Linked DNA regions of Homo sapiens: regions 1 and 3 are each linked to region 2. Evidence: fine-mapped QTL for protein levels in blood plasma. A gene starts in region 2. Each other region holds a variant in brackets. All regions are shown on one strand. Distances are between the middles of the regions.

Region 1 (2,758 bases), 41 kb after region 2:
GTCTCCAGATTTAGGTATTCTAGTAATAGCCCAGCCGAGCACATTCATTCAAAAATGACCCAAAGCGTGTCACCATGAAATTTCAGAATACCAGGGATAAACAGAAAATTCCAAAAACTACCAGGGGTGGGAGTAAATCACCTACAAAGAAACAAGAATCAGAATGGATTTCATTTTTCAGCTGTTATATTGAACACGAAGAGACAACAGGATGATGCCTTCAAACTTCCAAGGAAAATTTTTTTCAACCTAGAATTGTAGACTCAAATGATCCATGGCACGAGAGGGGAGGCTACAGAACTGTCAGATATTCCAGTTCTCAGACTATTTATCTCCTACTCCCATGTGAGGAATTACCCCAGAAAGTGAGGAAATTATCCAAAAACAACACATGTAGAAGAACATCTCAGTATAAGCCTTTTTCATTATTAGGAAAGAAAATCTTATTCAGCTTTTTCTGTATTTTTTGCCTACAGGCTGACTTTTTTTCTTATAATGCAAACTGGTGAAATTCCAGAACCTGGCCTTGGAAATGCAAGTCACCATAAAGAACATGAGTTTAAGGTCTGGGCATGGTGGCTCTCGCCTGTAATCCCAGCACTTTGGGAGGCCAAGGCGGGCAGATCACCTGAGGTGGGGAATTCAAGATCAGCCTGACCAACATGGAGAAATCCTGTCTCTACTAAAAATACAAAATTAGCTGGGTGTGGTGGTGGGTGCCTGTAATCCCAGCTACTCAGGAAGCTGAGCCAGGAGAATCGCTTGAACCCGGGAGGCAGAGGTTGCGGTGAGCCAAGATTGCGCCATTGCACTCCAGCTTGGGCAACAAGAGCGAAACTCGGTCTTTAAAAAAAAAAAAAAGAACATGAGTTTAAGGAAGCAGTAGAGACTCTCCTATGATAAGCCGTCAAAGTGAGAACGTTTACTAACTCCCCATCTTGTTCTCTCATGTACTGTGGAAACCTAGGTGGGCACTTATAATTCCTGCTGACTTTCGGCCGGGCGTGGTGGCTCACGCCTGTAATCCCAACACTTTGGGAGGCAGAGGTGGGCGGATCACGAGGTCAGGAGATCGAGACCATCCTGGCTAACACGGTGAAACCCTGACTCTACTAGAAATACCAAAAATTAGCCAGGCGTGGTAGCGGGTGTCTGTAGTCCCAGCTACTCGGGAGGCTGAGGCAGGAGAATCACTTGAACCCGGGAGGCAGAGATTGCAGTGAGCCGAGATCGCGCCACTACACTCCAGCCTGGCAGAAAAGAGCCAGACTCTGTCTCAAAAAAAAGAAATTGTTAGCGAAACATCAGGAGTTCAGTCTAAGTCCTGCGGCTTTGCTGCACACAGAAAGCCAATCACTGAGATGATGAGTAGTGCCAAGGAAGAAGGCTTTAAATCAGGTGCTGCAGCCAAAGAGATGGCAGCTGTCTCAAATCCATCTCCTGGACTGACTAAAACCAGGGGTTATATAGCAGGGAAGAAATGTAACAATGTGTCAGAAAACAGGAACTAGGGAGGTGCAAGGAGGCATTTGGTGCGTGATCTGGTGA[G/A]TTTCAGTTCTTCCATACATTTCTTTTTTTTTTCTGAGACGGAGTCTTACTCTGTCACCCAGGCTGGAGTGCAGTGGCACGATCTCAGCTCACCACAACCTCTGCCTCCTGGGTTCAAGCAATTCTCCTGCCTCAGCCTCCTGAGTAGCTGGGATTACAGGCACCCGCCACCACGCCCGGGTAATTTTGTATTTTTAGTAGAGACAGGGTTTTACCTTGTTGGTCAGGCTGGTCTTGAACTCCTGACCTACTATACGTTTTTGAGAGGACTGAAGGTACTTTCCTGAGGAAGGAACTCAAATCAAACAAATATAAGTTTCGTCCGGGCACAGTGGCCCACACCTGTAATCCCAGCACTTTGGGAGGCCAAGGCCGGTGGATCACGAGGTCAGGAGTTCAAGACTAGCCTAACCAACAGGGTGAAACCCCGTCTCTACTAAAAATACAAAGATTAGCCGAGCGTGGTGGTGGGCGCCTGTAATCCCAGCTACTCGGGAGGCTGAGGCAGGAGAATCACTTGAACCTGGGAGGCAGAGGTTGTGGTGAGCCAAGATCACGCCACCCTACTGCAGACTGGGCAACAGAGCAAGACTCCATCTCAAAAAATAAAAAAATAAACATATATATATATATGAGTTTCAAGCTTTAACGGCAGAAGGGTCAAGTTCTATGTTTATCCAAAACTGTCTGTGGAACTATAGGGCCGGTTTAAAAATCAGAAGAGGGGCACTGGCCCTTTCCTCTTCTCCTATGGGCATGATGGAATAACTGGGATTTGTAAGTCTGCTAGAATAACACTTAGCAAATAATTCGAATTAAGTTAACACTCAAGACACTGACTGTGGCTAAGAACGCCACAAAGGAAGTCCTCCTGAGAAAGAAGAATCTTATTTTAGAGAGTTTTTATTTTAAGAAATAGAAAACTGCCCTAAGGAAAACATTGCAAGATTAGAATAACTGGCATATCTCCAGTAAAAGCAAAAGAAACTATGCAAGAAGAGAAATGTTATGACAATAGAGTACTAGGTTCTGCAGGACATAACATTTACATAGACATGTAATGTGAACGTTTCATTTTCGTTTTTTTACTAAAGATGCTGATGTAACTGCATTTGGAAGACAGCAGTGGCTAAGAGCTAATCCTCATCTTGGGAAATAAGCAGTAGAATATTAATAAATCCCCTCTCCACTTTGTCCAATGGTCACCTGG
Region 2 (2,758 bases):
AGGCTCAGGTTGAGAATGAGCCCAGGGTTAAGACGGAAATGAGCCTGGGTTTGCAGTCGAGTTAGAATTGGGGTCGAGTTGAGTTTGGGAGTGAAACTGGAGGGTAACGTTGGAGCTAAACGCATTGCTAGGACTACCCAGTGGGCCAGTTAATCAGGCAGGACTGGAGGTTGTATCTCATGCTAGGATTGGGGTCAGTATGCACGTTGGAGCCATGGATGGAATTGGGGTTAACTTTGGTGGTGAATTTGGAAACAGAATAGAGTCGAGGTTCAATTTTGGCTTTGGGCTGGTGTTAAAATTCAAGTTGATTCTGGGGTTGGGGTTGAAGTAGGAGCTGGGTGGGGGGCGACAGGTGCGGTGGCTCACGCCTATAAATCCCAGCACTTTGGGAGACCGAAGCAGACAGATCACTTTAGGTCAGGAGTTTGAGACCGGCCTGGCCAACATGGTGAAACCCCATCTCTACTAAAAATACAAAAATTAGCTGGGTGTGGTGGTGTGCGCCTGTAATCCCAGCTACTTGGGAGGCTGAGGCAGGAGAATCACTTGAACCCAGGAGGCAGAGGTGGCAGTGAGCCGAGGTTGTGCCGTTGCACTCCAGCCTGGACGACACAGTGAGACTCAGTCTCAAAAAAAAAGAAAATGTAGAAGCTGGGGTTAGTATTGGGATTAGGGCATGGCTGGGCTGAGATGAAGATAAGGCTGGAAATGGGCCACCAATGAGGCTGAGTCTGAGTCTTAGTTTATTTTTATTTTTATTTATTTATTTTTTGAGATGGAATTTCGTTCTTGTCGCCCAGGCTGTTGTGCAACGAGGCCGTCTCGGCTCACTGCAACCTCTGCCTCCTGGGTTCACAAGATTCTCCTGCCTCAGCTCCCGGAGTCTTAGTTTATGACAGGGGATTGTGGCTGCCGTAACCCAATCTAGAATCCAGTGAAGGGAACAGAGTCTCAAATCTCCACGTAGTAATTAAACCCCACACTGCCGCCTTATATTTATTTTCATTTAGTCCCACCCAAGACCCAAAGTCCCCCTCTCCCTGCTTCCTCTGACATCCCCTGTCCCCTGGGTCTCACCGGCACCGGCAGCACCATTACCTGTGGGAGGTCTGGAGGGTGTGATTCCCACGTTGGTTGTGCTGCAAGGACCAGAGGTGGGACGTCACTCAGAGTTGGGAGCGCTGTGTCCTGGAGAGCTGGGGTAGAGGTGACTGGAGTCCTGCTGGTCTTGGGTCTGAAATCCCAGGAGCCCTATCATCTGGGACATCCCATCTCCTCAACTTTAGACAGTAAATGAGAATGAACAGGGATTAGAACACACAGAGACCATGTGTGGGTGGGGAGAGTTGGGTTTGAGGCCAGCTCTGTTCTCCTCCTCCAGGCCATGCCTACTTCCTTTCCTCTTCTCGGAGCTTCCTCATTTTTACCATCTGGGAGCAGGGCTGGATCAGAGGTACAATCTGCTGTTGCTCCTCTACCCTACACTTCCTTTCACTTCCTGCCTCTACATTTCCCAGAATTGTTGGGTCTCCATCATCGCACCTCTGATCCTAGAGAAGCCCAGTCTGTTCTCTTGCTCAATCCTGGCCTGAGTCCCTGGCATCAGCATCCTCTGGGTCCCAGTCATTCGGCTGCTCAGCTGTGGCCTCGCTCGCCTCACTCCACTCGGAAGGAGGGAAGGGGGTGCCAGAGAATAGAACTTCTTGGCCCTAATAGGACGGGAGAAGCCAAGGAAAAGAGCAAATTTTATTGAGTAATCTGTGATAGGATTATGCCAGACATTTACCTTCCACAACCATTCCCCCCAAGCACCTGGGGAGGCATTTTGGATGACGGACTAAAGGCTCAGAGCCCAAGATCACTCACAGCTTGTAAGGAGACAGTTTGGCACCCTGCTCTGGCTCTCAGCACAGGCGCTGTCTTCATGAACAGGATTCCATTTCATCCCATGATCCCTGCTCAACCCCTAAGGGAGCTGCCCTGAATCCACGCGCACATCCCTTTCAGTAGGAAGGAAACTGAGTATCTTACAAGGTGGAGAAGGAGAAGAAATACATTTTAGGTTATATTTTGTATGTACATGGGGTTGTGTTCTGCTATGTGCTTTTTTTTTTTTTTTTTGGAGTTAACAAGCTATCAGGAACATTTCTCCACATCAGTTTATAAAATGTACTTGATCTACCTGCACCTCATTTCATCATAGGCACCGTAATTTATTTATTTAGCATTTCTCTATTGACAGAAATAAATCAGAAATTTAAGTTGTTTCTTTTTCTTTTCTTTTTTATTTTATTTATTTATTTATTTTTTTGAGACAGAGTCTCACTCTGTTGCCCAGGCTGGAGTGCAGTGACACAATCTCGGCTACTGCATCTCCTGGGTTTAAGCGATTCTCCTGCCTCAGCCTCCCGAGTAGCCGAGATTACAGGTCCCGCCACCACACCCAGCTAATTCTTGTATTTTTAGTAGAGAGGGGTTTCACCATATTGGCCAGGCTGGTCTTGACCTCCTGACCTCACATGATCTGCCCGCCTCAGCCTCCCAAAGTGCAGGGATTACAGGCGCGAGCCACCGCACCCGGCCAGGTCGTTGCCAGTTTTGTTTTTATTTGGTATTCGGTATTTTGATTAGTATATGTCGCAGGTTCGGTTTTTGGAAGCCAAGGTTGAGGCTGAATTTGGGGTACAAGCTATTTATTAGGGATTAGCACTTCGAAAAGGAAAGTGGATGAAATGGTGCTGGGCAGAGGGAGAAG
Region 3 (2,758 bases), 51 kb after region 2:
GCCTCAGCTCCTGCTTTGTGCCCCTCTCCCTGTCTGGACTGCCAGCTCCCTGACCTCAGGAACTACCTTACTCACCACTCAATGTCCAAGCCCAGCACCAACCCAGAAAAAAAAAAGAGTCAGACGCATGTAAAAGTGACTCCCTGTGGGAAGCCAGGCAGGGCCTTCAGAATCAAACGTGATCTTGAATTCTGGTTCTGCCACTTACCAGCCATAAGGGAACCTTGGATAAGTGACTCAAGGTTTCTGATATTCAGTTTCTTCAGCTGGAAATGGGTATAATAATACCTGCCTCACTCGGTTCTTGTTGGTATTAAACAGGTTAATGTAAGGCAAAGTGTCTAACACTGAGCCTTTTTTTTTTTTTTTTTTTTTTTTGTATAAGCAAAGCCCTCACATTGTAGGTGCTCAGTGAAAATCAATTCCTTAACTCTCATGGTAGGTACTCAAAGAAAATCAATTACTGGCTGGGCACTGTGGCTCACGCCTGTAATCCCAACACTTTGAGATGCCAAGGTGGGTGGATCACGAGGTCAGGAGATCAAGACCATCCTGGCCAATGTGGTGAAACCCCGTCTCTACTAAAAATACAAAAATTAGCTGGGTGTGGTGATGCGCGCTTGTAATCCTAGCTACTCGGGAGGCTGAGGCAGGAGAGTCGCTTGAACCCGGGAGGCGGAGGTTGCAGTGAGCCGAGATTGTGCCACTGCACTCCAGCCTGGCAACAGAGCAAGACTCCATCTCAAAAAAAAAAAAAAGAAAAAAGAAAAGAAAATCAATTCCTTTACTCATTTTAACTTCCTCCAGTTGCTGCAGAAAAAGCTCTGCTTCCCTCCCCCTGAGCTTCAGGTGCTTGACTTATATTTACTCCCCTGGGGAATGACAGGAGTCAATATGGGCGGGCTGGAGAACCTGGCACCTGAGCCCCAGAGGAAGGCCCCAGCTTCCTGCAGCTCGGGCTGGCGGATGGGAGCAGAAGCATCAGTTCCTGGTTGGGAATTTGGAGACACCAACAATTTGGGGAACTTCAAAAGCAGGAAGCAAAAAAGATGTGAGAGAAAGGGGAAACACCAACCCTCCTAGACAGCCCCCCTCCCCACCCCCAATCACAAAAATGCGGAGCCCAGGAGAGCCAACTCCTGGGAAGGGACGAATTCCCAGTTCCTACCCCGGCCCATCTCCAGCCTGGTCCAGAACTCAGTCCTGAACCCAGCTCCCGGCTCCCACACCTCCATCAGCCCCAACCCCACTAGCAGCCTGTCCCAGGCCCAATTCTAACAAAGACAAGGGGTGGGACCCTGGAGAAAGTGGGGTTCCCCAAATCACGAGAGAATTCCCTGGCCTCTCTGCCATCTGTTTCCACTTCCCCTGGTCTCTGTCTTCCTGTGTTTATCTGCCTCATTCCGTACTTCGGC[T/C]GTTCCCTCCTCCACAGGCTCTCTCTCTGCCTGTCTCTGGCTCATTCACTCACATATTACACAGCAGGTATGTGCTGGGGAAGAGGGAGCAGGCCAGTGAGTGAAAGCAGAGGAGGCAGAGGATGGGGCCAGAGAGGGAGGCAGGGGCTGGATCACGGGGACCTCCAGGGCATGGAAGGCCGGAAGAGTTTTCTTCTCTGTGAAATAGGGAATTATTGATGAGTTAAACAAGGCGACACATAGCCTGATTACATTTTTTAAAGTCACCTTCAGGCTGCTGTATGAGGATGAACCTTTAGGGGTGAGAGTTGGCAGGGGATGTTGTTGCCAAAGTCCCAAAAGAGAGATGACGATGGTGTTTGGGACTGGAGGTGGCTGTGACAACAGTGAGAAGATGTCAGATTAAAAGCAGATCATGTCAGGGTGCGGTGGCTCACGCCTGTAACCCCAGCACTTTGGGAGGCTGAGGTGGGTGGATCCTCTGAGGTCAGGAGTTCAAGACCAGCCTGGCCAACATGGAGAAACCCCATCTCTACTAAAAATACAAAAAAAAAAAAAAATTAGCTGGGCATGGTGGCAGGCGCCTGTAATCACAGCTACACAGGAGGCTGAGGCAGGAGAATCGCTTGAACCCGGGAGGCGGAGGTTGCAGTGAGCCAAGATTGTACCACTGCACTCCAGCCTGGGCGCCAAGAGCGAAGTCTCCGTCTCAAAAAACAAAAGGGTAGATAGTGAATCTTGGAGGAAGAACCATCAACTCAGCACTGGCTGGGGAGGGCCTGTGGGCGAGGAAAGGAAGGCTTCCTGAAGAAGCTTTGTATGCTGCTGAGAAAGTGACAGCAGGGTTAACTGAGCGGGAAGAGGGGGCAGGAATGGGTTAAACGCGCAATGTAGAAAGAGGAACTGAAAGGGCCGGGCGCGGTGGGTCATGCCTGTAATCCCGGCACTTTGGGAGGCCCAGGGAGGCAGATCACTTGAGGTCAGGAGTTCGAGACCAGCCTGGCCAACATGGTGAAACTCCATCTCTACTAAAAATATAAAATTAGCCGGGCGTGGTGGCACGTGCCCGTAATCCCAGTTACTCGGGAGGCTGAGGCAGGAGAATCCCTTGAACCCAGGAGGCGGAGGTTGCAGTGAGCTGAGATCACGTTATTGCACTCTAGCCTGGGCAACAAGAGCAAAACTCCATCTCAAAAAAAAAAAAAAAAAAGAAAGAAAGAAAGAAAGAAAAGAAAAGAAAAAGAGGAACTAAAAAGAGCTCAATTTGGGATAGACGGTGTTTGTGTTTGAGGTCCCTGTTAGACCCTAAGGTGAGATGCCAGGGCAGAAGCTGAATAAACAAT

Which allele goes with the higher level. Positions count from the first base shown, and alleles are read on the strand shown. Strength reflects both the effect of a copy and how common the allele is.
In carriers of allele G in region 1, the plasma level of the protein whose gene starts at base 1,301 in region 2 tends to be higher than with A alone (moderate association).
For the plasma level of the protein whose gene starts at base 1,301 in region 2, allele T in region 3 goes with a lower level than allele C (moderate association).

Evidence for each region. PIP is the posterior inclusion probability: the model's chance that the variant is causal. Protein levels are from antibody-based Olink assays in UK Biobank. Linkage for the fine-mapping came from a reference panel and not from the study's own genotypes, which makes the PIPs less certain.
Region 1: its variant is fine-mapped to the plasma level of the CLEC10A protein (UK Biobank, PIP above 0.99).
Region 3: its variant is fine-mapped to the plasma level of the CLEC10A protein (UK Biobank, PIP 0.95).

The regions. Positions count from the first base shown.
Region 1 is chr17:7,119,995-7,122,752 of GRCh38, forward strand. No RefSeq gene overlaps it. Among named protein-coding and RNA genes, the nearest start is that of ASGR2, 6.6 kb to the left of the region's middle. RefSeq lists a silencer at 1,848-1,947. The variant G/A (reference allele first, on the strand shown) is at 1,549.
Region 2 is chr17:7,078,951-7,081,708 of GRCh38, forward strand. It overlaps CLEC10A (C-type lectin domain containing 10A), which reads right to left and starts at 1,301. Exons shown (of 9, transcript NM_001330070.2): 1 at 1,102-1,301.
Region 3 is chr17:7,129,847-7,132,604 of GRCh38, forward strand. LOC105371512 (a long non-coding RNA gene) reads left to right here and starts at 1,401. Exons shown (of 3, transcript XR_934191.3): 1 at 1,401-1,482. RefSeq lists an enhancer at 1,112-1,649. The variant T/C (reference allele first, on the strand shown) is at 1,416.